7 linked regions of the Homo sapiens genome follow. The protein of the gene in region 4 purifies or fractionates together with the protein of the main gene of each other region. This does not show direct contact. Each region holds a gene or a part of one and is shown on either strand. Other genes may lie near its edges.

Region 1 (3,500 bases), on a different chromosome or scaffold from region 4:
GGGGTTTCACCATGTTGGTCAGGCTGGTCTCGAACTCCTGACCTTGTGATCCGCCTGCCTCAGCCTCCCAAAGTGCTGGGATTACAGGCGTGAGCCACCGCACCCAGCCAGCACCGGCTTATTAATGGTGAGATGTTAATGGGAAAACTGGGCCTGTGAGATATGGGAGCTTTTACTATTTTTACAATAATTCTGTAAATCTAAAACCATTCTAAAATTAAAAATTTATTTTTAAAATGCAATATATTTGTTTTCCTTTTAAAGCACTTCCCTCATTCTTACCCAACGGGACACACCTTCTCAAGTACTTAAGTAATTCTTTTTTTTTTTTTTTTTTGAGACTGAGTCTTGCTGTCACCCAGGCTGGAGTGCAGTGGCGCGATCTCAGCTCACTGCAACCTCTACCTCCCAGATTCAAGTGATTCTCCTACTTCAGCCTCCCGAGTAGCTGGGATTACAGGCGTCTGCCACCACACCTGGCTAATTTCTTATATTTTTAGTAGAGACAGGAGTTTCATGTCGGCCAGGCTGGTCTCGAACTCCTGACCTTTAATGATCCACCTACCTCAGCCTCCCAAAGTGCTAAGATTACAGGTGTGAACCACTGTGCCCGGCAAGTAATTCTTATGAACAAATTAGCCTTATAAAGTTGTCATAAACATTATGTGATGTGTGGCCAGGTTAGAGTCCTGTGTGACCCGGTCTGAGCTGGCCTCTGGGCAGCATGCCGTGTGGGGGCTGCCACAAGCTGATTCAGGGAGCACCGGCCTGGGGTGACGCACGCCTGTCGGGCGGAGGGCGGCCTGGGGTGACACGGATGGTGGCCTGGGATGACACGCGCCTGTCAGGCGGAGGGCGGCCTGGGGTGACACGCACCTGTCTGGTGGATGGCGGCCTGGGGTGACGCGCGCCTGTCGGGCGGATGGTGGCCTGGGGTGACGTGGATGGCGGCCTGGGGTGACGCAGATGGTGGCCTGGGGTGACGCGGATGGCGGCCTGGGGTGACGCAGATGGTGGCCTGGGGTGACGTGGATGGCGGCCTGGGGTGACGCGGATGGTGGCCTGGGGTGACGCGGATGGTGGCCTGGGGTGACGCGCACCTGTCTGGTGGATGGCGGCCTGGGGTGACGCGCACCTGTCGGGCAGATGGTGGCCTGGGGTGACGTGGATGGCGGCCTGGGGTGATGCAGATGGCGGCCTGGGGTGACGCGGATGGCGGCCTGGGGTGACGCGGATGGCGGCCTGGGGTGATGCGCGCCTGTCGGGCGGATGGTGGCCTGGGGTAACGCGGATGGCGGCCTGGGGTGACACAGATGGTAGCCTGGGGTGACGCGGATGGCGGCCTGGGGTGACGTGCGCCTGCACCGGGAGCAGCTTCCCTTGGCCAGTGCCCATGTTCCTCTTTTCATTTTTATCTTTTCTGGGGAGGGTAGGGGGACGTTTTACTGTCTTTCCACTGAATGTTATGACCCTCCCCACGCCCCTTGGAGGCACAGCTGAGGTGGGGCCTATGTCTGGCTCCAGGGGGCCCTGAAAGGTACTTTTTACACCTCCCACCCCTCAGCACTGAGAGACCTCGGGAGGGGTACCGGTGACAGGGACGCGGGCCCCACCTTGCTGAACCCAGCAGCGAGGGCATCTCTGCCTCTGTCCCTGGAGGCTGACAGCGGTAGTGTGGGAGCTGGGGCCTGGGTGGAGACCGGGTCAGAAACTCAGGTTTCGCCTGGGTGGGCCATGAATGTCCTGCCGAGGGTGAGACCCTCAGGGCTCTGGGTGGAGAGCAGCACCTGCCCAGAAGCAGTAGACCCTTGTCCCGGCTGCACCAGGGGCCAGCGACCTTGTGCCCTCCTCCATCCTGCAAGCCTCGGGCGGTGCTTGGCCTCACCTGCCTCTGTCTACTCAGGACTTTGAGGCCAGGCACTCCTGCAGGCAGAGAGGGGAATTTCTGAGACTGAAGTTGTTACTGGGTATTTTTTAACAGCGCTGTCTTAAAAAATAGATAGCGTGTCTCTGTGGCCCCGTCTATTCTTGCGGCCACACGAACGTGCGTGTGTGTGTGCAGCTTCCCTCACGGCAGCCAAAACCCAGAGGCCGCCCAGCGTGCGAACACGCCAAGGTGTGACTGTCGGCACGGCACTGCCGAGCCGTGGGAGGGACTGGGTGGTGCAGCGGCCAGTGGATCTCAGACCCTGAGCTGAGCACGACTGGAGAGGATGGGTGCATCCGAGCGTCTGCAGAGCACAGAGCGCGTCCGCAGAGCGGGTCCACACCTTGGGTGCAGCGAGCGGATGTGAGCAGTGTGCCTGTGACCAGGGCTGTCTGCACATCCGCCGGCCTAAGCTGCTGCTCACCGAAACCCACTGGGACTCTGGCTGAGGCCGGCCCCAAGGAGCTTTGCCGAGGAGGGAGCACCTTGCCCCTGCCCAGAGCGGTCCCTCGCATCCTCCTTCCCGTGAACCTGCATCTTTGGTTGCAGTTACAGCTCTCACGCTTCCATCTTATGAATCACAGGAGTCCCGTTGGTTTTGGATGAGTTGACACCAAAAAGACACAGGAGCTCTCTAGAGACACTTCCTGGGGGTCCTGCCGCGTTGGAGCAGGGAGGCAGTAGCTCCTGACGCCTTCCCTCCTACGTGGGCTTTGTGATCACTGATGGTCACATGCGGGGCATTCGGTGGCCTCTGTGTAGAGCCAGTGTCTTCCTGATGTGACACTGGGAACCACCAGCAGCCCAAGCACAGGGACCTTCTCCTGGCCACTGGGCGGGCTGCAAATGTGAGGGCGAATGTTGGGTGCAGGGTGGTGGAGGTAGCTGGGCCTTCCCTGCCGCGGAGGAGGCAAATGTGAGCGCGAATGTCCAGCCCAGGGTGGTGGAGGTAGCTGGGCCTTCCCTGCCGCGGAGGCGGCAAATGTGAGGGCGAATGTCCGGCCCAGGGTGGTGGAGGTAGCTGGGCTTTCCCCGCGGCGGAGTCGCCCAGCTCTGCCCGAGGCCCCTTCCTCCCGCCCCAGCATCAGGGGCTGTTCCACAATGGGTGTCTGGGGGTCCCTGCAGCCTCCCACCTCCCTCCTGGGAGAAGCCTGCACACACTGAGGGGCTGTTTGTTCTTTATTTGCAGAGGTATTGTGGCCAGTATTTTGGTTTTCTTATGTTTTGGAGTCACACAAGCTAAAGACGGGCCATTTTCCAGACCTCATCCAGGTAACTTGCCATTTCCTTTTCCGTGTGCCCCTGTGGCATTTCTGTTCTGAGCGGCCACTCTGTGTCTGTGCTGCTGGGTGTGAGTGTCCTGTCCTCCCCTCCGCCTGGCCCCTCCCCGAGGCCTCCGAGGCCACTTCCCACATGGACAAGGGCGTGGGGTTCTGAGCTGGCCGTGTGCTCCTCCTCCAACCACCGAGGGTCTCTCCAGGCCTTCTCTGGCCCTTTCACTCTTCCCTGTCCAGGGCTCTCCAGCCCTTCTCTTCCTGCTTCTGCCTCCTCTTTCCACAGACCAGAGTGGCCG
Region 2 (3,500 bases), on a different chromosome or scaffold from region 4:
CACCCTCATCCTCACCCGCAGCCTCACCCTCAGTCCTCAGACACTGGGGTCTCCGGCTGTCTCCAACCCTTCAGTTCTTTTCAGTAGCCTCCTTCCCACCAGCATCACACAGAATTAGACCCTGGGACTACATTTCTGGCGGAAGGTGACTGCTTTTTCAAACCACGTGCCTTCTGCAGAAGCCGCTCCCCACGTAGCCCAAGCGTAGGGTGAGACTTGGCACCAGTGGCTGGGGTCGCTTTTGGGTGCCAGAGAGCCCAGATTCCTCTCCCTCCCACGCGCAGCCAGGCCCTTCCTGCCCACGGACCTTGCCTTTTCTTGGTGGTTTTTCTAATCTGGCAAGCCTTGGGGGGCACCTGAGGCATTGCCCCTCTGGCCCAAGCCGCAGGGAGAGCTTGCGATGCTTTGGGTGGCGTGTGTCGTCCAGTCTGCCCCAGGCTCACTTGGGGCCCTTGCATTTGCCACTGGACTCTGCCTTTCGGGAGGCGCTGTGGACCTGAGATTTGGACCCATGGGCCTAGGAGGCCACCTGGGAGGAGAGTGGCCCAGCTGTGCCAGGCAGGTTCCTCATCTGGACAGAACCTGCTCCCTGCAGCCTCTCAAGCTCCCCGAGGGCCCTTCTGGGTCTTGTCTCTCCCACACATTGGGGGTCAGGTTTGAGCCCCTTTGCTGGCGGACCTCTGAGCTGCCCGCCCTTCCCTCCCACCACCCGCCCTGCCTCCTGTGGTGCACAGGGCTCTCCTGGAGGAGGGAGGTCCTGGGCATCCCCTGCCTCCTCACCTTCACCCTCAGGAGTCCCAGAGCCCTGGCTGCTCTGCACAGCAGGCTGGGAAGCAGGCCCTGTGCCCAAGGACTAGCCTGAGAACTGGGGAGGTCCTTTCCTCTTCCCCAGAGGACAAAGAGAGCTGTGAACACCACGGGTCTGTAAAGGGGTCCCCCCACATGCAGGAAAACATGAGTTGTGGCATCACTTACGCCTTCACTCACCAGTAGCCGAGGCACAGCGGGGGTCCTGAGCATGGGCAGGGCAAGCCACTTCCACCCCAGCCATGGAAGGAGGCTGAGGAGGCCAGGGCAGCAGTGGGGACCTGCGGCAGGCAGGGCCTGCAGGGCTCCGGGGCCGGACAGGGTGGATTTCCATTCTGAGTCTGTTTCCCATGAACTCCAGTGCTGACTGGGCCCACTTTGAGTAGGACGCTCAGTGGCTCATTCTCATTCTCATGATGTCTCTGTTATGGGTGGAAACTGAGGCAGAGAGAGGCCCGTGACCTGCGTGGCTTGGAGCCAGCCTCCGTCTTCTTCTCAAACATGCCCTTGAATGGCAGGAGAGTTTTCAGTTCCATGGATGGGATGATGAGTCGGAAGGAAGAGTAAACCTGCACACACCCGTGGCTTCACCCGTCCTCCCCACGCTCCCAGGTTCAGTGGGTGGAGACTGGGTGCAAGCAGGTTGAGGGACAGGTCCTTCTGGGCTGGCCCTGCTGCCGCACCCTGGCTCCCTCTTGCTCAGACAATCCTTCATTGTCGGCCCCATACAAAGCAATGGCTTCCTGCCTGCTCGCCTGTGCGAGGTCACCAGGTATGCAAATTGGGGTGTACCAGGCACAGCTGAGGCCCCCATATGCTGATCCCAGAGTCTGTGCCTCAAGCTAAAGAAGTGAAAGCTCCTTTCATTCATTCATCCAGCTTGAGGAAGAGACCCTGGAGTGAATTTGGAGATAGAGGAGAGAGTCCCAGGTGTCTTGGGGGGCTGGTGTGGCAGGGGAGGCAGCTGAAGATGGTGTGGGGAGCAGGCAGGTGCTCAGGGCGGGGCTGGGTGCAGGGCAGGCATGTGGCTGTGGCTGGCAGCCTCAGAGCCGTCAGGTGCCAGGAGGAGGGACTCGGCTTTGCCAGGCAGTGCCTGGGCTGGAATCTGAAGAGAAAGGAGAACTGAGACCCTATGGTCCTGCCTGGCCTCCAAATTCTGAGTGGGGCCTGGAAGCCGGGACTGGGACATCCCCTAATGTGGAGGGGTGCTACCCACCCAGCCCAGCTCCAGGCCTCCCTGGGGACATTTGCTGGGCCACAGTAGGTCAGCCAGGCCAGGCCCAGGGGCTGGCAAGCTTAAAATAGTTTTCTCAGAGATCCTGCGTCCTTTCCACGCACTGCGCTGAGAGCGCTTTGCAGGGAGCCAGGCTGGGAAGTAAGTGCATGGGGCCTAGGGAAGTAGGTGGGCTTCTAGAAGTGGCACAGGCCGGGCTGTGTCAGCTGCCCACACACGGGGATACAGGCTGGCACCCCAGTTCCCACAGTCTGGGCTGTGCCAGCCACCCGCACGTGGCCACTAGCTCCTCCCAGGTCACTGTCCTGGCTTGAGAGGAGGGGGAGGAAGAGGTCAGCCGGATTCGCCTCTAAAAGACCCTAGCAGAGGAGTCAGGGCCTCCTATCCCGGAGATGCAGCTGACTGACCAGGCCAGCATGAGGAAATCGGAAGAGAACTCTGGCCCCCATGGCCTCCTCCTAAAATAGCGGGCACTGACCCATACACAGGCGCACACGCACGCATACACCCTCCCCAGGCCTGCCCCCAGCCGGAGGCTCCAGGGACACATTATCCCCCGGCTGATCGCCTTGGCCTAATTCACACCCTGGCTGCCAAGGCCTCTGGCAGCAACATCCCCCCTTCCTCCCCTGCGGGGTTGTTGTGGGTTAGAGCAGGGACAGGGCCTGAGGGGGCTAAGCTCCCAGGGAAAGGGCAGCTGGCTCTCTAGATGCACCGGAGGGGCGGGGTGGTTTGCGTTTCTCTCGGGCTGAGAGCCACCTAAGGCTCCGCCTCAGATGTTCTCCCATGGACAGAGGCATCAGGGCAGTGGGGAAAGGATGGGCCGAGAGGTGAGTGGGTGCCCTGGGGCGGGGCAGCCACAGGGGGCCTGAAGTGGCTCACGGGCGGGGCCACCAGTCAGGGCTCCGGGCCTGGGCACATGGGCAGGCTCTGCTTCCAGGGGCTCCTTCCCACCTGCCGGCTGCATGGGAGCCGTGTGGCCGGAGCCCCAGGGGAGACCTTGTCCCTCATTCTGGAGCAGCCGTCAGGAGTACAAGGCCATGGGAGAGGACCCTACTCCATGGAGGTGATGGACCCTCCTCCCGTGATGGGGCAGATTTCAGTAACTGTGTGTGCACAGGAGAGCTCAGCTGGTTCAGGCCTCCAGAAGGTTCCTGGGCAGCGATGGTGGTGGTGTGCTGTCAGAGCCTCCTCCCTAAGCCTGGCTCCCAGGGCCTTGGCTGATGACTGGAATTCACTCCAGGCTCCGGGCCTCTTGTCCCCACCGGCCAGGCGGTTCTGATTCGCAGCCATGGGCAGCTTTTGCACCCAGCTCTCGAGTGACCGCCCCTGGGCTCCTCGTGGGTGCGACAGTGTCCTGGGAGTCCCTGAAGCCCAGGTTTCCCACATAGCAGGCGTTAGGAAGTCGGTACCAAAGTATGGAAGGACTGGCTTGTATTAGTCTGAGTTATCCAGAGAA
Region 3 (4,122 bases), on a different chromosome or scaffold from region 4:
GATGGCCATGCAAGGAGATCCCAACCCTGGGGCAGGTGGTGTCTCTGGGGCCGTGGGTGGGTGGAACAGAAATGACACCCTAATTAGGGACCAGGAGCTGGGGCACACCCTGGCCAGGAGGGGGACCAGTGTTCTCATGAACTGACCTCAGAAGTAATGTCTACTCAGCTGCTCCCCTGCGTAGGAAAAGTGTTTTGTAGATCTGAGAACCGCTATAGGTAGCTCAGGGTACCCCAGTGAAGGAGTGTAACCGCGAGGACCTCTGGGCTCCCTGCCAGCCCACAGCTGCTGATGCTGGGACTGCAACTTGGAGAAAGGGGCGAGCAGGTGAACAAAACTTCCTACTCCTGGCAAATTTCTGAGCTGCTGGGACTAGAAAATTTCATAGTCTGAGGCTGAGTCATGGAGTGGCTCCAAAGCGGCTAGAGGCTAGGCTGTGGGCGGCTCTGGGGCATGGAGGAGGCAACATTGACCCTTCTCGCGCTGCAGAGAGACAAAAGGACCACCACCACGATTTTATTCTTAAATAAAGCTCAGTCTAAGGCCAGGTTAGGTGTACAGGTAGGTGAAAGGGGAGGAAGTGCAGATCCCGGGCACTTCCACTGTGGGTGAGTGGGCCAGCCCAGGGGAGGTGGGGCAGCTGAGAAAGGCAAGCAGGTACACAGGGCAGGAGGGGACGATGGAACCACTGGAGTCATTCTGCATGTGCTGGGAAGGTGCAGAAAGAACCTGGACCCCACGTTCTCTGTGGGTGGTGCCAAAAAGCTCAGCATGGTCCCGAGCCCCAAGAGTCCCCTGCCCGGACTCCCCCTGTCCAGCTCAGTGCAGCATCAAGCAGGCAGTGATGGCTGCCTGCTGCCATTAAGTCTCCCAACAAGATCTCAGGTTGAGGGGCGGCAAGGAGAGCCACATGCCTGCCACCCACGCTTTCCACACAGCCATGCTCAGGCCTCCGGGCACTGCAGGCCTGCAGGGGCCTCCCCGCCTGGGATCTGAGGTGCTCTCCAGGTGCGAGCTGGGCTCCTGAGCATTGCAGGTGCCGGCCCCCCGGGGCTTCAGGATACCGGGCTGCTGACTGGAGGAAAACGGGAGGAGGGCAGAGGTCTTCATGCTTCCTTCCCACGGCCAGGCTCAGTGCTGGTGCTCAGGCTCCGACTTCCCCAGGAATTCCCTAGACCACAGGACAATCAGGAGCCAATCATTTGAGCTCAGACCAAAGATCCTTCTCCACAGTCCTCACACTGCTATCTAAGGAAGCAGAGGCTGTGCAGAGAGGAGGCAGCCAAGAGCCCCATGAGGATGCGCTGTAGCCCAGAGCAGCACTCAGTGAGTTAGGCAGGGAACAAGCAGTGTGGTGCCAAGTCAAAGCCCAACACACAGGCATGGAGACAAGGTCTCTGATTCTTGACCCTCAACTTCAGAGCTATTCTCTGGTCTAAATTTTCTACACATATCTTCCTTTTATAATGGGGAAAATTATAACCGCAAAGCAAACCCATACTCTGAGCCCACTGCCCCCTTAGCAACCCAGGTACCTGTGCTAAAGGGACACAGTTTTGCCTCTGGAACTTCCAAAGGCAACTGGAGAAAAGCAGAAGTTTGCAGTAGAATTACTCACGGGATATACAGCACTGGGAGGCAATTCAGGCCACCAATTTCAGTCCCCTGCAGGGAGAAACTGGCACCTTGACCTACTTTTTGGAGCTGACTGGCACAACACAACAAAAAACTCTATCACCATTAGCAGCAGCCCCTCCGTGGGTCCAGTGCTTAGGGTCGAAGTACCACATGCCCTCCTCGGCTCAGAAGCCTTGTCCCATGCACAGGGAGGGTTAGCATCTTGCCCAAGGCCACACAGCCAGGCAGTGGGGTGGGGGCCTGTGTCCTCTGACAGGCAGGTAGGCGAGTCTGGGCAGCAACCTGCATAGGGCCCAGGGCAGTACAGAGGAGGCCGGGGGTTGGTCCATTCCACACACTGCCCTTGTCACTACTGCCAAGGCCTCACCCTCAGGCTTGGGCTCTGCACTCAGGCCCAGGTGGGTACTCATGGCTCTCTGGGCTGGCGCCCATGTCCTGCCAGTGCAGGGCAGTCAGGAGCACCACGTCCCTTCAAGAAGCAGCTGGGGACAAAGAGGCTTTTGAGGAGCTGTGTACGTCTTGAGAGGTGTGTGGAAGAGATCCGAGGCCTGCAAGTGGCTGGGGTGTCTGTGTCTGAGTGTTCCCAAACATGGCCACCTGTGAGCGTGTGTGCCCCCCCGTGTGGGTCTGTACATCCTTTACAACATGGAGGCGGCTCACCCTGCATGATCATGTGAACAGTCCTGGAGCAGGAGAGAGGCACTCCCTCAAACCCCTCTGCCAAGGAAATGGAAGGCTCCCAAATCACTGTGACTCTTGGCCCCACTGAGGCCCCCTGAGCAGCTTCAGCAGCTGCCACCTGCTGCACGTTAGGTGTGAGCCAGTGCTGCCCAGACGAAGCCCCTGGGTGGGAAGAGAATGTCTCACCTCAGTATCCGTGGCAGCTCAGGGCTCTTGTAAATGTATTTGTGCCTGTAGCCAAGGTCTGAATGAAAGGGCACAAACTGAACTTTGAAATCTCGGAAGCTTCGAGCTGGTGCGGCGATGCTATAGAGCTGGGGAGAGAGGGGTCAGAGCCTGAGGCAGTGGCCTGGCATGGGGGTCCCAGCCTGAGGAACACCAGCTTGGCAGCCTCCCCTTCAATAGAAACCAGTCCAGAGTCCCACATACACTGCTTGTTGCCACAGCCGGTCACGACCAGGAGGCCCGGGGGTGGGCTGGGAGGAGCCAGGCCCCAGGCTTGGCTCCTGGGCACACACCACTCAAGATACTGTCCTCACACCTTATAGACTACCCTTCCTCTGGGGAGTGGCTAGGTGGATGAGCCAGACCAGGTGCCTGGGAGGCTCTGATGGCAGGGATGGCACAGTCTTGGGGAGCTGGGACAAAAGGTATGTGCCTCAGGCTTAGCTAAGATGGGCTTGATGTACCCATCTCAGCCCCCTCCCCCTCTCATTTCGGCAAGGGTAGGTGGGCCTGAGCTGTGCGCTGCTGGGCGGCTCTGCATTCTGCCCCTGCCCTGTGTGGCTCCGTCATCTGTGTGCCTTATGGAGCCTGACTGCATGGGGGCTGTCAGAGCAGGAAGTGCTCCCAGCCCTGGGCTGAATCCGTGGACGAGGCCTGCACACACCCAACTAGTTTGCCCTGCCATTACCAAGACCCAGGCTGCCTTCTCTTACCCTACTCTGAGCCACAAATCCAATCCAACTTGCTGACAGTCAAAGCAAATTCAGCAAAAGCAAACACTGAGGCCCCACAGACAGCATGGTCTGGTTCTGGTATCAGCGCAATTCCAAAGGCAAGGAAACAGGCTAGAAGTTTCTCTATCAATTTTGACTGTGACCCCTGCAATGGGCTTGGGAGATCCTCATCAAGGGGTTCTTTGCCTTCAGCCCATAACTGATGAGCCCTTCCAGCTGAGTTCCCAGGTTGGCCTGGGCTCTGATAACATAGGCAGCCCACTCTGATAACCCCTGTGTGAGGACTGGGAACTATCTGCTTATTTTTCATATTCTTGGAGACAGCATCAGTGGGCCCCTGCCCCAACCTTTACACCAGACCTCCCATGTCCTTCCGAAGCAGCCTGGAGGTGACGCAGGGAGGATGAGGTGGCCTCCTGAGCCTGACGTGGCTGGTGCGCAGCCCGTGATGCAGCATGCAGGGGCTGCCTTCCCGCCTGCCCACTCCCAGCCTGGTCCACCCACACTGGCTGAGTGTGCAAGATGCCAGCTACACCAGAGGCAGAGGCCAGGACCCACCTTTCTGCCAAGCTGGAAGGGCACCACCGGGTCGTCCTCAGCGTGCAGGATGAGCAGGGGACAGGAGATGTGCTTCACGCTGTAGGAGGGAGAAGGGGCTAGACCAAGACCAGGGAAAGGGCAGAGTTGCCCAGACCCTCTGTCCATGGCAGGGATCTGGGTTCAGGGTGTGTTTTGGGAAACAGCCTGATTTCTGCTGGATTTCTTTTTACTAGACAACTGAAAGTTAACTCTTCATTATCTCTATGAACATCTATTACAGCTAGATGACAGGTGTCAATCACAG
Region 4 (3,787 bases):
GCATCCTCACTCCTCCTGCTGGCAGGTGGGGCCAGAATTGACTCTGTGTCCAGCGTGAAGGACACACGGTCCCAGTGTGAGGGATGGTAGCTTTTCAGGAGCACAGTGCTCGTTAAAGGAGCTTACTCTGTCCCCTCGCCAATGAGATGACAAACAAGAGGCACCTGGCATGTCACACCAGGGGCCACGGATGGCATGCCATCTGCAGTGATGCCCGCCCCCCCCACCCTCCACGTGCTTTCAGCTCTGTCTTGTTGGGTGCTAGTGCCAGATTCAGGGCTCTGTCACTCCTCTCTGACCTTGCCCCTGCCCCTTTGGAGGTGGCGTCCACCTGCCATTGGCATTGAGTGTTCAGGATGGACTCGTGTGTCCAGCTCCCCCTAACACCACGTTGGCTGGGACCCCAGCCCCTGGTCCTCCACCCGCCCCAAAAGAGTGACAAATTATGCGGGCACAGGTTCCCTTGAGCTCATTTTGAAACACTGAAGCAAACGTCAATCTAGGGAACAGTTGACATGACACTCCTTTATTAAAACCTAGGGACATTGTTATAAAAACTACTGTATATAAAGACAAAAGCAGAGCAACAGCGGTCAGTGAAAAACACATGATTATTCTTACATTCTAGTATTATTATTAGGAATATTATTGGTTTTGGTTTTCCCGGTTATCAGCTCTCAGGGAGACCCCATGCCTGCTCACATGAAGTCAGAGTTTACGGGAGAGAAAATATTTCCATCCCCCTACCCCTGCGCTGCATGCCCTTGTCCAGCTGGCCCTGGGGACGACACATCAGCCTTTTGTGGGAGGTCTCCTGCCTTGTTAAGGTGACTGAGCCCCTCACCCTTGCAGCCCCCACCTCGTTACTGCACATTGTCGAGACACTGACCACTTGGTTATTTGACTGTGAGGTATGCCACTAGCTTTAAAACGGGAAATGGGAAAAATAGGAAGAAACTGCGTATGAGAAACTGACATGCAATTCCAAGAAGAGGCTCTCTCTTGGGCCACCAGCTTGGTTCCAGCTGTGGCCAGGGTGGCCATATCATCTATAGTTTTAGATCCTGTGCTCAGGGTTGGCGCTGACCAATGTGGGATCCTGCACATTTTGGAGGCTGGTTTAGGGTCATTCAACAGGGTACCTCATTGTACAAACCTAAGGGTCACCGTTCTCAGTGCAGTCTATGTAAACAGTATCCCTGGGAGCCCATTACCATTTATGGGACAGTGTCGTGAATGGTGCCTCCTGGAGGTGAACCCTGCAGCAGCCCCGGATTTCAGTCTGTCAAGGGCAAATCTGTCAGGGCTTTGATGTAAAGATAGGAGTTTTAGGTACAGAGTAACTAACAGTCAAATCTGCTCATTCATCAAGCATCTATCTAGCACCAGCTGTTGGCTTGGACTAGAAACTGGGGTGGTGGGGGGCAATGACACCTCCAAGGTCACTTTCACGGGTGGGACAGGTAAGTGTTCTGAATTCATTTTGTGAATCTGAGCATGTCTGTTAGGCACAACTAGCCGTTTCACAAGTGGTCCCAGCTATAGCAGGAATGGCTCCCAGATGGGCCCTGGGTACAGGGCCAGGCAAGTGGCAGGCACTCGGCAAGTATCTGAATAGGTGAGGGAAGCGCGTGTCATCGAATGAGTTTTCTAGGAGGCTCCTCACCTCTTCTAGCTTGCCTGACTGCTTAACTTTAACATTTGAGCTTTTCGGGCCACAACCACCAAAGTTGTTTGCGTGCATTTAAGCACCAGCGTGGGACGTGTTGGTGCTACAGCAAGGAACTAGGGCACTGTGCATGGCATCTGGCACATAGTAAGTGCGCAGGCTTGTCTTCCAGAGGGCACAGGGTATGGCCCCAGCCCAGTGAGGTATTCCTGGACTGCAAAGGGCAGTGATCAGGGCGTCATCCACTCATGGCCTCTCTGACTGTCCCAGTGCTGTGGGGGCCAAGCAGACACCCTCTGATGCCCACCACGTGAGCAGGATGATTAAGAATTCCTGCAGTTTGCTTCCATGATTCCAACCCTAGATTTTCACAGCAGACGAAAACAACCCACGTGGATGTCTCCCTACAGTGATAGGGGGCCCTTCAACATTGATAAGACATGTTCCCAATAACTCCATCCAGGTCTGTTCTTCCTTCCTTCCTTCTTACCTACCTACCTAGACAGAGTCTCACTCTGTTGCCCAGGCTGGAGTGCACTGGTGCGATCTCAGCTCACTGCAAGCTCTGCCTTCTGGGTTCATGTTATGTTAATTTCAAACATGGGAGAAATCTGTAAATTCACTTCCGAAGGCTTTTCCTGTTGATGGGGACCAGTTCAGCCAAGTTGAAAAATTAAAAAATTTTACAAGTCTGCACCCCCGGGGACCCCGTCTCCTTGAATGGCACAGTCTCTAATAGACAGACATGGTGATTGTGAAAGCAGCCGAGCCAGCGGAGGGGCCTGCCTGGGGATGGCAGCTGGAATCCTGAGCCAACCTGGACAGCGGCCTGTGGGGGAGTCAGTGCCAAGCACAGCCACACCCACAGCCCTGGTCTGTTTGCCATGACCTGAAGAGAGCTTTTGGGTTGACGGTGAACTGGAAACCATCTCCTGGCCAAAGAAGCCTGTTAACCCCTAGCCCTGTCATGTTTTCCCTGACATTCCCAAGTCCTCCTCTTCAGCTCTGGGCCAAAATTTGACTGAATCTTTCTGATGATGAGGGGAGATGCCACTCACCCTGGGAACACTGTCAGCTGCCTACTTGCTGCTTTCTAGAGCATTGGAGACAGCAAGAGGGACCAGATCTACCTGTGAAATCACCTGTGTGTGTGCGCGCATGTGCATGTATGTACTTGTGTGTTTTTTCAATTAAGGCCTGTTGCACATCAGCAATGGTCATGGTCAGGTGGCTGGCCTGGCCGCTGGAGCAGCCAGGTGAGGCGGGTGAGAAGGCTGCTTCTCTAGGTGCAGGGCACGTTCAGAGGCTAACTTGAGGGCAGCGAGCCAGCAGGCATTACCAGCTATTGGTTCTGAATAGAGATTCTGAAACACACAACAATCACACCGTACACAGACGAGAGGGAAAGCATAAAACTGCTCATTAATTACACACAGTTCCCAGTGGGAAACAGTCCTTACAAACGCGGTAGTTCTGCAAACAGCCTCGAATGCAGATTCCTCTGTGGACATCTTGTCCTCTTCTCTCTCTCGTTTTTCTTTTTGTATTATTATTATTACAAATTACATGGTGATGGACAGAAGCTCACAGTAAAAAGTAAAAGTAGGCAGCTTAAAAAATCAGGTTGAGTTGCTAAAAAACAGTAACTCTAGCTATGCTTGAACTCGTCACTACCCTGCATCCATCTTGTTCTCAGGGACAGTCTACTCCTTGAGGGACCTTCCAGCCACAACCACAGCAGGATGGGGACAGTGTTTATCACAATGACCTGGGGACCCATGGCATTTTGAGGAGCCCTTGACACCATTGGGGGATTGAATACACACACACCTGCTTTCCACACTGAGTGTTCACACCCACATGCACACTGTTCTCACCTGTCGGCTCCTCTGTGAGACAGCAAGTACCGTGACTAACTGGTACCCTACCTCACACACTTGACAGGTGAGAAGCAGAGGCTCTGAGAGGTTAAGTGGCTCGTGGGGGTGACCTGCAGGAAGGAGGATGCCGTGGCTGTCTGCACCAGGTGTGCTGGGTCTTGGTGATCTCTGCTGAGGCCTCCTGCTTGCCACAGAATGTTCCAGTCCTCAGCCCAGCTGCCCAAGAGGGACTTGGCAG
Region 5 (3,500 bases), on a different chromosome or scaffold from region 4:
GGCGCCCCTAAATCCTGCACGCACGGCGGGCCCCGCACGGGCGCCGGGTGCAGCCCACACACCACCAGCTCCAGCACGATCTGCGCCGCCTGCCGCCCGGTCAGCGCCACGCGCCAGTCCCGCAGCCCGTTGTCGGTCATGAACAGCTGCCGGTAGGGGGCCAAGAAGGGAGGGGTCAGGAGCAGGTCAGGCGCAGGTCAGGCGGCGGCCCGCGCCTGCCTGCGCCCTGAGATAAGTGGGGTGTGCCGCCTGGCCAGGAGGGAGGGAGTGCAGGGCGGGAGAGGGATAGGGAGGGAGCGGGACAGGACTTGAGGAAGACATCTTTCCACTTTTTCCTCCTTCCCCACCACCCACCCCACTAGTTTCAGCCCACTTCCAGCCTTTGAACACTGACTGAGCGCCGACTGTGTGCCTGACATTGTTCTATGTGCTAAGGATACACAGTGAACCCAACAGACCCCCCTGCCTCCCTAGAGCTTGCATTCCACATGCCTGGAGCTCGCTCCTACTCCCCTTTCGGTTGACACGCGTAATAACTGTAATAATAATATCAGCAATAACAAAGCCATGGGCCGGGCGCGATGGCTTACGCCTGTAATCCCAGCACTTTGGGAGGCTGCGGTGGGTGGATCACTTGAGGTCAAGAGTTTGAGACAAGCCTGGCCAACATGGTGAAACTCCATCTCTACTGAAAAATACAAAAATAAGCCGGGCATGGTGGCGCACACCTATAGTCCCAGCTTCTGGGGAGTCTGAGGTAGGAGAATCACTTGAACCCAGGAGGCAGAGGTTGCAGTGAGCTGAGGTCATGCCACTGCACTCTAGCCTGGGTGACAGAGCGAGACTCCATCTCAAAATAAACAAAACAATAACAATAACAAAATCAGCATGTACTGGGCACCGTGGATACGCCAGGTACTGCTCTATCCCGTTTACATATTGTGACTTAGTAAATGCCCACAACCCAGTGAGATTGATATTATTATTGCCCCCATTTTATAGATGTGGAAGCTGAGGCCCAGGTCCCTTCCATGGGCAATGGCGCACTGGGCTACAGGCTACTTAGCTACTCTATGATAAGATGATAATGTGCACTGTTTACTGAGCACCTCTTATGTGCCAGGCACTGCTCATAGAATTGCCACACATGGCCAATAATCCCCATTTTACATGCAAAGTTATGATAGGAGAGGGGGAAGAGGGGAAAGGGAATGGAGCAACAGGATCTGGGGCAATGGGACAATAGGGGATGGGATGTGTCTGGGTGAGACCCAAGGTGGGGTATGGATGGGGAGAGCTCCTGGGTCTGGGGCAAGAGGGAGGTTATTGGCACAGAGATAGGGTGATTAGGAGTGGGCACCCCTGGGACCGGACCAGGTGCAGTGGCTCAAGCCCGTAATCCTAGCACTTTGGGAGGACAAGGTGGGCAGACTGCTTGAGCTCAGTAGTTGGAGACCAGCCTGGACAACATAGTGAAACCCCGTTTCTACTAAAATACAAAAAAATTAGCTGGGCGTGGTGGCATCTGCCTGTAGTCACAGCTACTTGGGAGGCTGAGGCATGAGAATTGTTTGAACCCAGGAGGTGGAGGTTGCAGTGAGCAGAGATCGTGCCACTCCACTCTAGCCTGGGCAACAGAGCAAGACCTTGTCTCAAAAAAAAAAAAAAAAAAAAAAAAAAAAAGGAGTGGGCAGCCCTAGGACCTTAGGTTGCTTGAGGACTGGATTGGGGATGCCATGTCGGAGCACAGAGATCTGGGAAGCTGAGTGCCTGGGAGCAGAGTGGACAGAGGCCTGGGGGCGGAAGCAGGGCTGCAAGGGCACTCTCAGCATCCGTGAGTGTGCAAGGGGGGGCTGGGGACTACAGGGGAAGGCGGAGCTGGTGGGGGAGGCTCTGCCTGTCTGCTCATGGTTCATCCCATCTGGGTAGGTGAGGGTGTGGACGCAGCACCTAGGGCAGAAGAACTTCATTACTCAGATCAGGAGGAGGAGGAGGGTGGAAAGTGTGAGCTGACAGGGCGCTGAGGGGGTTGGAGGGAGCAAGGCTTAGGGGCGGGGCCTGCCCTACCTGGACCTCTTTGGCATGAAAGGCCACGATGAGGCAGAGGAGTAAGAAGGTGGAAATGCTGATCGTGCATTTAACCAGGAACAGGTAGAGCGCCCACTGTCAGGGGGGACGGAAAAAGCGGTGTGAGATCCCAGGTCTCCCTCCGCCTGGCCCTCCACCTTTCCTTCAAAACCACCATTTTTTTTTTTTGATTCCCAATTTTCCTAGCCTCCTTCCCCTGCAAATCAGTCCCTCTTGATGTGTCGGTTCTGGAGAAGTCTCAAAACCATCATCTGGGCCCAGTGCGGTGGCTCACACCTGTAATCCCAACACTCTGGGAGGCTGAGGCAGGTGGATCACCGAAGGTCGGGAGTTTGAGACCCCCTGGCCAACATGGTGAAACCCAGTCTCTACTAAAAAAACAAAAAATTAGCTGGGTGTGTAATCCCAGCTACTTGGGAGGCTGAGGAACCAGAATCTTGAACCCAGGAGGTGGAAGTTGCAGTGAGCTGAGAGATCGCGCCACTGCACTCCAGCCTGGGCAACAGAGCGAGTCTCCGTCTCGAAACAAGCAAGCAAGCAAACAAACAAACAAAAAAACACCATCATCTGGTCCCCAGGAATGCTCTCTTTCTCCCCAACAGGACAACCCTGTCCAGATGCTGGTGTCTACCCTCTTCCTCAGCTCTTCTCCCAAGACCCATACCCATGAAGGGGGACCTTGAAACTCACATTCCTTCTTATTCCTGTCCCATTTCACATCAAAAATAGTTCTTCAGGTGTGTGTGTGTGTGTGTGTGTGTGTGGGTGTGTGTGTGTGGTGTCTAGAAAAAGACATCTAGCCTCTAGAGAGTGCCCCCTCCCCTTCCCTTCCTACCCACCTGGTGTTGTCCTAGAAACCAACTTCAATCAACCCCAACCCCAGATCTGGAAGAATGTAGAAACTACCATTCAATCCTCAAAGACTGAGTCACACCCTTCTCTGCTCTCATCCGGAGGGCTGAGTCCCTGAGACCCAGCCTCAGCTCTGAGACAGCCCCCTCGGTTCTGCCCCCCTGCAGCTCCCCACTGCCACCCCTCTCTTCTGGCTCTAAGCCCAGGGCAGATCTGGCCGGAAGCACAGGGCCTCCAGAAACCACGGAGAAATTGTTCCTTTTTTTTTTTTTCCTCTCTTTGTGTGGCACAACCTTGGAGGAATCTAGAATTCTGGAGAGAGGGATTTAGAGGGGACTGGGACTGTTGGATTTCCTAAGAGGGGTTGGTCCCTGCCTGGCGGGTATTTGCAGGGGGAGGGGACCACCTGGGCGTCCTTACAAAGCATTGCACCTGTTTCTCCTAAGAGGGCTGCCAGCTCCCCTGGCTGGGCCAGCATCCCGCCTCTGAGCAGGGGAAGAGGGCCAGTTTCCTGCCCCAGGGGCCTGCTCCCCAACCCCCTATCAGAACAATAGTGCTGT
Region 6 (3,986 bases), on a different chromosome or scaffold from region 4:
TTGCAGAAGGGGGGTTATGGTACTGAAATCAAAACTGATTTACCTAAATATGTCTGCATATTCTGCCATCGCAGTCATGATGGCTTCTTCTGCCTTAGAGAAACCGATTTTTTTTTTTTTTTTGAGACATATCACTCTGTTGCCCAGGCTGGAGTGCAGTGGTGTGATCTCAGCTCACAACCTCTGCTTCCCGGGTTCAAGAGATTCTCCTGCCTCAGCCTCCTGAGTAGCTGGGATTACAGGTGTGAGCCACCACACCTGATTAATTCTTTTTATAGTATTAGTAGAGATGGGGTTTTGCCATGTTGGCCAAGCTGGTCTTGAACTCCTGACCTCAAGTGATCTGCCTGCTTCGGCCTCCTAAAGTGGTGGGATTACAGGAGTAAGCCACCACACCTAGCCAAAAACTGATTTTCTTTATTCAATGGGTGTGAGAACTGACAAAGGGAAACAAAAATTAAAAAACTATTAGACATGCTAATATGTTAATTGTACAACTCCATCTAACAGTTTCTCTTTAATTTTGCAATAACATTAAGCTGTAATCTTAATAGAGTTCTTATATTGCAGTTCAGCAAATTTTTACATGCCATGACTTTTATTCACAACTAAGTATGAAGATAAGGTCTCCAGAGGATCTCACTCTAAAGATAAAACCAACAAACAGTAATATTACATAAACTTCAACTGAAGATAATTTGTATTAAGTTAAAGAAAAGGGAATTAATACTTTAACAATCTCAGCATTTTTAGCTAAGAATTCACATATCCTTTGAAGAAACAATTACTATTCCACTGTGCATCTGAGGGTATGTCACATAGCCCATACACATAAACTAATTTAAAAGCTGTTGCAAATCAAATTATCATCTCATGAAGATTAAACAGTAGATATCCATTTAGATTTAATCAAGCATTTAGAAAACGCTTGATGCTAACAAAAATTAGCCAGCCATGGTGGCGCCCACCTGCAGTCCCAGCTACTCCCAGCTACTTGGGAGGCTGAGGTGGGAGGATCACTTAAGCCTGGGCAACACAGCGAATCTCTGTCTCAAAAAAAAAAAAGAAAGGAAAGAAAAGAAAAGAAGGAAGAGAAAAGAAATGGCCAACAACTTTACAAACCTATAATCACATAAAAAGTTGTAAAACATATGAGACATGTGGCTAAAGTCAAAGACTTCATGGAACCATGTTATGACTTAACAATCACAAAAGGAAGTCAATTTATCTCTACTAAAGTGAATATAAATATTGCAATCATTCTTTTTCTGGCATAATTATGTTTTGGAACTATGTCTTCTATAAAAAGCATCTGTATACCCACCTGTCCCAGTTGTGTTGGCTGCCAACTACAAGCATCCTCTGTCCTTATTTTTCCAAATCACTCTACTAAAAATACTATTCACACAATACCTGCAAAATAGTATTTCAATATTGGTTTTGCCAATCAGTCAAAGGTACCTCTCCAATTTTCAAGAGATAAGTCCAATCCTGGGGTTATCAGTGAGAGGAAGATTTGGTATTGCGCCTAGACTGTGGCAAGTTCACTGTGCCCCCTTCACCCAGAAACTTGCATTGACCATACATTTACTATGTGGCAAATACATGTGTCAACTTAAAACTTTGAAAGTGGAACCAGTCCATGTTGAGTATCTGTAAAATCCAAGTGTCCAAATTCTTGTTTCAAGTTTAATTTTTAAAATCTGAGTATCCAAAGTCTTGTTTCAAGTTTTTAAAACTTAAAGGTAATATAGTAAATTTTTAGGATCTTAACATGTCTGGTATTTAAACTTAGCTACGAAAAAATTACAATGAAAAAAAGGACACCATTACTGTCAATAAATCCAAATGATATCTTCATTTTCAGAATCACGTCTTCCACTACCTTCTTCAAACATCACTTCCTCTCCACTACTTCCCCCAGTCCTTTAGGCAAATCAGTGATTCACACCGCCCCTTCCACCCAAGATTCTTAAAATGATCCACTGTGCACGAACGAGAAAGCCCCACGATCCAAGTACATTGCCCTAGTGATCTTTGATGTTTTAAAAGGCACCTGTAAAAATGCCAAAGCCCAAAATTAGATCCCCAAGGGCTCCTTTTCTTTCTTGACCACACTTCTCTTTTTCAGTGCCTCCCTCACCCCTTGAGGCCAGACGATTTCCCATCCAACAGCCCTCCTCCTTCTAGTCAAACCTAAATCCTGCCCTCCATCACCACCAGCCCCACCCGGGGTGGGAGGCGGATAAGAGGGCTCCGTAAGAGGAGAACCCCATGAGAGGGCTCCAGTCCCAGCCCCGATCGCCCTCCCTCGCCCTGGGAAGGGAACACCGGCCCAGGTCTTGCTCCTCTGACTCCTCATCCCCGCTGCCAAACCCAGAGCATCTCTTCTTCCGGGTCCACATTCCCGCAGGACCTTCGATCTTTTTCCCCCACTGCGCAGCTTTCAAAAGCCCCCAAGCTCTGGGCTCTTCAAGCCTCCCCCTCTCGCTCTCTCCCTCTCGTTCCTCGGCCTCCACTTATCCCTCAGCCTTCAGGCCCTCAGTTCGACAACCTCCATTTGCTTCAGATTCCATTCCAGAGCTGACTATCCCGGTTCCCTCAACCGTCTCCCCGGGGCCCCTCCAGGTCGCGGTCCCTCGGCAGCCCCCGGCTCCATCCCAGACTCCCCACTCACCCTTGGCAGCAGGCGCCCCCCAAGCTCCCCTCTCCTCAGCCTCAGCTCCCGCTCACCTCCGCGGTCCGAGTCGGGCTCCCCGGACCCACCTCCGAGTCGGCGTCCGAGCCGCCGTCGGAGTCCGGGGCCCTCCCCGCCTCGCCGGAGTGAAGCGCCTCAAGCGGCGGGGGCGGAGCCCGGGGCGGGGAGCCGGAGTGGAGGCGGGGGCGGTGGCGACTGCGCGCAGGCATCGTCCCGGCCGCCGTCACCGCCGCGCCGGCAGCTGCTCGGAGCCGAACCGGAACTGCTTCGGGAGGCGGGGCCCTACCGGCCGGGGACGGGGTTCTACCGGCAGGGGGCGGGGCCCACACTGGAAAAGACGCGAGGCTCCAGATGGGCCCGAGAGGAGAACCGAGATGCTGCCGCGGAGGAGCCCGAGGGCGCATGCGTCATGCCGGAGGCCAAAGCGACAGGAGGAAGCGGGGCTAGCGGAGCCGGGGCGGGGCCTGTGGGATCAGTAAATGGGGTTAGGGCCTAGAAGGAGGTAATCCGAATTCCTCTGGAGAGAGCCAGCTCTTCTCCAATAGCCAGCCCCCAATGATCATTGTTATAATTTATTGCCCATTTACTCTTTGACAGTGTCTATGCCAAACGCCATATAAACATCTCATTTAATCCTTGTGCTAAGGCCGGGAGCGGAGGCTCACGTCTGTAATCCCAGCACTTTGGGAGGCTGAGGCGGGATCACCTGAGGTCAGGAGTTCGAGACCAGCCTGGCCAGCATGGGGAAACCTCGTCTGTACTAAAAATACAAAAATTAGCCGGGCGTGGTGGTGCATACCTGTAATCCCAGCTACTCGGGAGGCTGAGGCAGGAGAATCGCTTGAACCCGGGAAATGGAGGTTGCAATGAGCCGAGATCACGCCATGGCACTCCAGCCTGGGCGACAAGAGCAAACTCCATCTCAAAAAAAAAATCCTAGTGCTAATTCTGCAAGGGGGATCCTATAGCACAGAAAAGTAAAGAAACATACTGCCTGACATATTGCAAACTGATATTCCAACCCAAATCTCTCTAACATCAGATCCTGTATTTTCCTCACTCCACCATGCTGCACCACCCTGAGGGAAGGTCTCCTCCCAAGCCAGGTCTAGCATTGGCATAAACCAAGTCCAAACCCAGCTGTAACCTGGACACGAGCCCCTCCTTGGTCTTGCCTCCCCACACAGTGCCGGGCCGACTTCAATGGTTCTGAATGGGATAGACATGAGTGTAGACTGCTTCCATGGGATGCCCTGGTGTGGCCTTTCCCTTCAAACTGGTCTTAAGG
Region 7 (3,500 bases), on a different chromosome or scaffold from region 4:
AGGAAAGAGGATGTTAGCAATTGTTTTACCTGTCCTCATGACTTCCAGTACGAACATCCTTCATGGCAGCAAATCCGCAAGGCACTCTAGCATATTTATTTAAATTTTCAATAAGTGTCTTCCCTACTTCAAGGTAGTAAGGATCTCCTGTAGCCTATTAAAAAGGAGAATATATGTATAATATATATAGCTTATATATTACCACATATCCATTCATTTACCAAATATTTATTGAGTACCTACTAGGTGCCAGGCACTGTATCAGGCACTGAAGGACATTATATAGAACTGAGTTCTGAAAAAAAGCTATGAATCTGCTTTACAGAATTTCTTAAATACACAATTATAAAATTTAACTATATAACCTTAGTTTTTAAATTTCTAATGCTCAGAAAGGCTGCCTGAAGAAAGGCAAGAGACATGCTTTAGAAAGCAGCTCTAGAACATAAAATTTCTCTTTAAAGAAATGTTTACATAATATTTTTTAAAGAAAAAAACCTTGCATGTCAATTCTTGCATCATTCAATAATTCTATGGACTAGATGAATAAGAATCATGATATATCCAATCATTATAATATTAAAAGGGGACTCTGAAAACCCAATTACTATTATGAAAGAATGAGAGATCCAACAGAGAATGGAGGCTAAACTTTAAGTAAAATGGGGTATATTTTCTTACTTTATATAAGAAGTAGGTACTTTCTGCAAATTCTGGCCTTAAAGGATGTTGAGCCCAGTGTACTCTGAAATCTGTGGTAAATGCCTGAACAAAACAACATACAAAAGGCATAAAAAATGTGATTAAATACACAAGTAGTTCCAGAATATATAGAATATATATAAATAGGTAAAAGCAATTAAAATAGCAATCAGGACATTTTCATCAATAAAACATCAATTTTCATTGCTTAAAATAACAATTCATTTTGCAAAGGCTGCTATTTTTACCAATTAAATTGATTATTTTTTCAGTGATCATTCTGGCTATTAGAAAACTCAGAAAAACTCCATAATGAAACTCAGCAATGCCACTACATGGGTCCTGGTGGTAAACATAATTGTGTTTTCTTTTTATCCTTCCCTCTACTTTTTCCTCTGGATTATTACTCTCCTAGTTCTCATATTTATTTTTAAATTTTTTAAATCGACAAATAAAAGTGACATATATTTATGGTATATGACATGATGTTTTGATATATTTATACACTATGAAATGGCTAAATCAAGCTAATTAACATATGCATTATCTCACATAGTTCTCTTTTTTTGTGGTGAGAATACTTAAAATCTCTCTTAGCAATGTGTAAGCATACATATTTCATATTTTAGCTTATATTTTCTAAAAGCCTCAAATCCTTTGTGGAATAAGACAGAGCATTATTTAGAAATAAATAAAATTAGTCTATTTGAAATTTATTCAATAACATAATCAATTGGTTTTTAAAAGAAAATAAAAATAAAAGCAAACAAAAACTTTTATGGGAGCTAAATAAAAATTTCATTTGTGATAGATGTATTAATTGAAACCTCAGTTTATTCTGTATGGATATGAATTTTCTACAATGCACAGTCCTACTCACCCGAAGGCTAATAAAACTATACTTTCCAAAACAAACACTTTAGGAACCCTTCTAAGTTGGTAGAATGCTTAGATATCTCACAGAGGGTAGTCAATAAGCGGGGATAGAACAAGGCCATACACACATTTGGAAATTTTTAACGGTACATTTCTGGGAAGCCAAAAAGTATGCTATTAAAATCTTGTCATATTAAGCTAGCAAGAATATTTATTACTAATATGATGTATAAAAATCAGGAAGAATAATTCTCAATCAGCATGAGGAAGAGATGGCATTCTATACATTTCCAGAGGGCATGTGTGAACAACAAAAGTATATCTAATATATACTGTTTTCATAAGACAAGCTTTAGAAAATAAAAAGTGACAAAATCTCCCTAGCTGGTAGGTACATACAAGAGTTAGAATGAGAGAATATTACAATGGCATAAGTTAGGAAGAGTTGAGAAGAACTAAGCTGGGAATTTTTTTACATAAAATTTTAAAAATGTCAGCATTACCCTAAATCAGACTTCTCTTAACACACAAAGAAAAGCAAAAACATATATAATACTGTACAAACCAAAAATAAACTATTTAATAGGAAAAAAATAAAAAGAACCAACAAGCCTTGAAGATGACATTTTCTACCTTTATATTAGCAACTTATAGTGTATATGTGTACGTGTGTGTGTGTGTGTGTTTGTGTGTGTGTAAGATTATTCCAAAAATTATTTGCTTACCTCTGGTAGAAAATTGTGTTTTTTAATCACCTGATATAACATTTCATGAGTTTCAATAGCAGGTCTAATATCCCCCTTTAACACCTAGAAATCAACAACAATAAAATTACCTAATAAAATATGAGCTGATTTTATCTCTAATCATTACATAAACAGAAAAATGTATACAAATACAATTCTGAACTGCAACTATGTTTTGTAGTTCAGTTTTAAAGATCAAAAATGCGCCTAATTAACATCATCATCTTACATTCATATTAAGAAGACAGAATTCTTTATACCTGCAAGCCTGGGAAGAAGGCAAGCAAAGCATCCATCCAAGTCCGAGCATTCAGCATTGGTTTGTGGATATGCACATCAAGTAGAAGAGGTGGCTGGCTAATATACCTCATTATGGCATCATAGTGCTAAAAGATCACAACATGTGTTCATGAAAGTTAGATGAAAAAAGAGGTACTACTCTAAACACATTAAATAGCACTGTGAATAAATTAAACTAGAATTTATATATAAATTCACTAAATAACTACCAATTTATATAAATATTTAAGTTATTTTAGATGGAGATCTTTCTAAAATATATATGTACTCCTTTATGTCCTCTAACTCACATGCAGACTATTAAAGACTATCTGTAATATAGGACCTTCTGAGAAAAATGGAACTGAACATCTCTATGCCCTGTGGCGTTAGCCCGTGGTTGGTATGACTTTGCGGCCCACTGATGCTCATAGGTCCCCTTGTAATATAGCTATCAGCTTCTGTATTACAGAATTTGCTTTTTCCTGTATCTTGGAAGTTTGATCCCTTCTCGGCTAACAATATTTTGGTGCTCACTACTATCTAAACTAATGCAGCTAATCACTGCTGCCACTCTTATGGTTTGCTATCTCAGCTTATTATGGTCTTAGAAAACTCTTTTTCCCTTCTTTTGTCTTCTTCTCCTAGATATTTCTCAGCTTTGACAAAAGGTTGAGTTGTGATAACAAGCCAACAAAAATAGTTATTTGTCCCCATTTACCTCAAGAAATTCTTGTTATAATCTAATAAACAATCTATGTGATAATTTTAGAAAGTATTCAATTAATGACTTATTAACTTTTACTAATTTTTTTTTTGCAAATTTACCTATTATTTAATCACTATTATTGAATATTGGCCATAGGTTAAAGGCACTGCTCTAATCACTTTGAATGC

The links.
Region 1: the proteins of SHISAL1 (region 4) and PTDSS2 purify together in Homo sapiens (affinity purification with mass spectrometry; one large-scale study listed by BioGRID and IntAct). This does not show direct contact.
Region 2: the proteins of SHISAL1 (region 4) and SLCO4A1 purify together in Homo sapiens (affinity purification with mass spectrometry; one large-scale study listed by BioGRID and IntAct). This does not show direct contact.
Region 3: the proteins of SHISAL1 (region 4) and ABHD12 purify together in Homo sapiens (affinity purification with mass spectrometry; one large-scale study listed by BioGRID and IntAct). This does not show direct contact.
Region 5: the proteins of SHISAL1 (region 4) and KCNN4 purify together in Homo sapiens (affinity purification with mass spectrometry; one large-scale study listed by BioGRID and IntAct). This does not show direct contact.
Region 6: the proteins of SHISAL1 (region 4) and SAMD8 purify together in Homo sapiens (affinity purification with mass spectrometry; one large-scale study listed by BioGRID and IntAct). This does not show direct contact.
Region 7: the proteins of SHISAL1 (region 4) and EDEM3 purify together in Homo sapiens (affinity purification with mass spectrometry; one large-scale study listed by BioGRID and IntAct). This does not show direct contact.

The regions. Positions count from the first base shown.
Region 1 is NC_000011.10:470,779-474,278, forward strand, and holds part of PTDSS2 (phosphatidylserine synthase 2), read left to right. Parts: intron 1-3,116; coding exon 3,117-3,199; intron 3,200-3,500. UniProt on the Homo sapiens protein: Catalyzes a base-exchange reaction in which the polar head group of phosphatidylethanolamine (PE) or phosphatidylcholine (PC) is replaced by L-serine. Catalyzes the conversion of phosphatatidylethanolamine and does not act on phosphatidylcholine.
Region 2 is NC_000020.11:62,645,503-62,649,002, forward strand, and holds part of SLCO4A1 (solute carrier organic anion transporter family member 4A1), read left to right. Parts: intron 1-3,458; exon of another isoform or gene 3,459-3,500. UniProt on the Homo sapiens protein: Organic anion antiporter with apparent broad substrate specificity.
Region 3 is NC_000020.11:25,299,714-25,303,835, forward strand, and holds the end of ABHD12 (lysophosphatidylserine lipase ABHD12), read right to left. Parts: intron 3,916-4,122; coding exon 3,837-3,915; coding exon of another isoform or gene 3,585-3,836; exon of another isoform or gene 2,634-3,584; coding exon 2,506-2,633; intron 1,666-2,505; coding exon of another isoform or gene 1,644-1,665; exon of another isoform or gene 1,619-1,643; intron 1,172-1,618; coding exon 1,132-1,171; 3' UTR 501-1,131; downstream 1-500.
Region 4 is NC_000022.11:44,243,165-44,246,951, forward strand, and holds the end of SHISAL1 (protein shisa-like-1 precursor), read right to left. Parts: 3' UTR 501-3,787; downstream 1-500.
Region 5 is NC_000019.10:43,774,474-43,777,973, forward strand, and holds part of KCNN4 (intermediate conductance calcium-activated potassium channel protein 4), read right to left. Parts: intron 2,164-3,500; coding exon 2,068-2,163; intron 147-2,067; coding exon 1-146. UniProt on the Homo sapiens protein: Intermediate conductance calcium-activated potassium channel that mediates the voltage-independent transmembrane transfer of potassium across the cell membrane through a constitutive interaction with calmodulin which binds the intracellular calcium allowing its opening.
Region 6 is NC_000010.11:75,110,470-75,114,455, reverse strand, and holds the start of SAMD8 (sphingomyelin synthase-related protein 1), read right to left. Parts: upstream 2,801-3,986; 5' UTR 2,734-2,800; exon of another isoform or gene 2,678-2,733; intron 1-2,677. UniProt on the Homo sapiens protein: Synthesizes sphingolipids through transfer of a phosphatidyl head group from a glycerophospholipid on to the primary hydroxyl of a ceramide in the lumen of the endoplasmic reticulum.
Region 7 is NC_000001.11:184,716,859-184,720,358, forward strand, and holds part of EDEM3 (ER degradation-enhancing alpha-mannosidase-like protein 3 isoform 2 precursor), read right to left. Parts: intron 2,711-3,500; coding exon 2,585-2,710; intron 2,388-2,584; coding exon 2,304-2,387; intron 766-2,303; coding exon 682-765; intron 155-681; coding exon 30-154; intron 1-29. UniProt on the Homo sapiens protein: Involved in endoplasmic reticulum-associated degradation (ERAD). Accelerates the glycoprotein ERAD by proteasomes, by catalyzing mannose trimming from Man8GlcNAc2 to Man7GlcNAc2 in the N-glycans.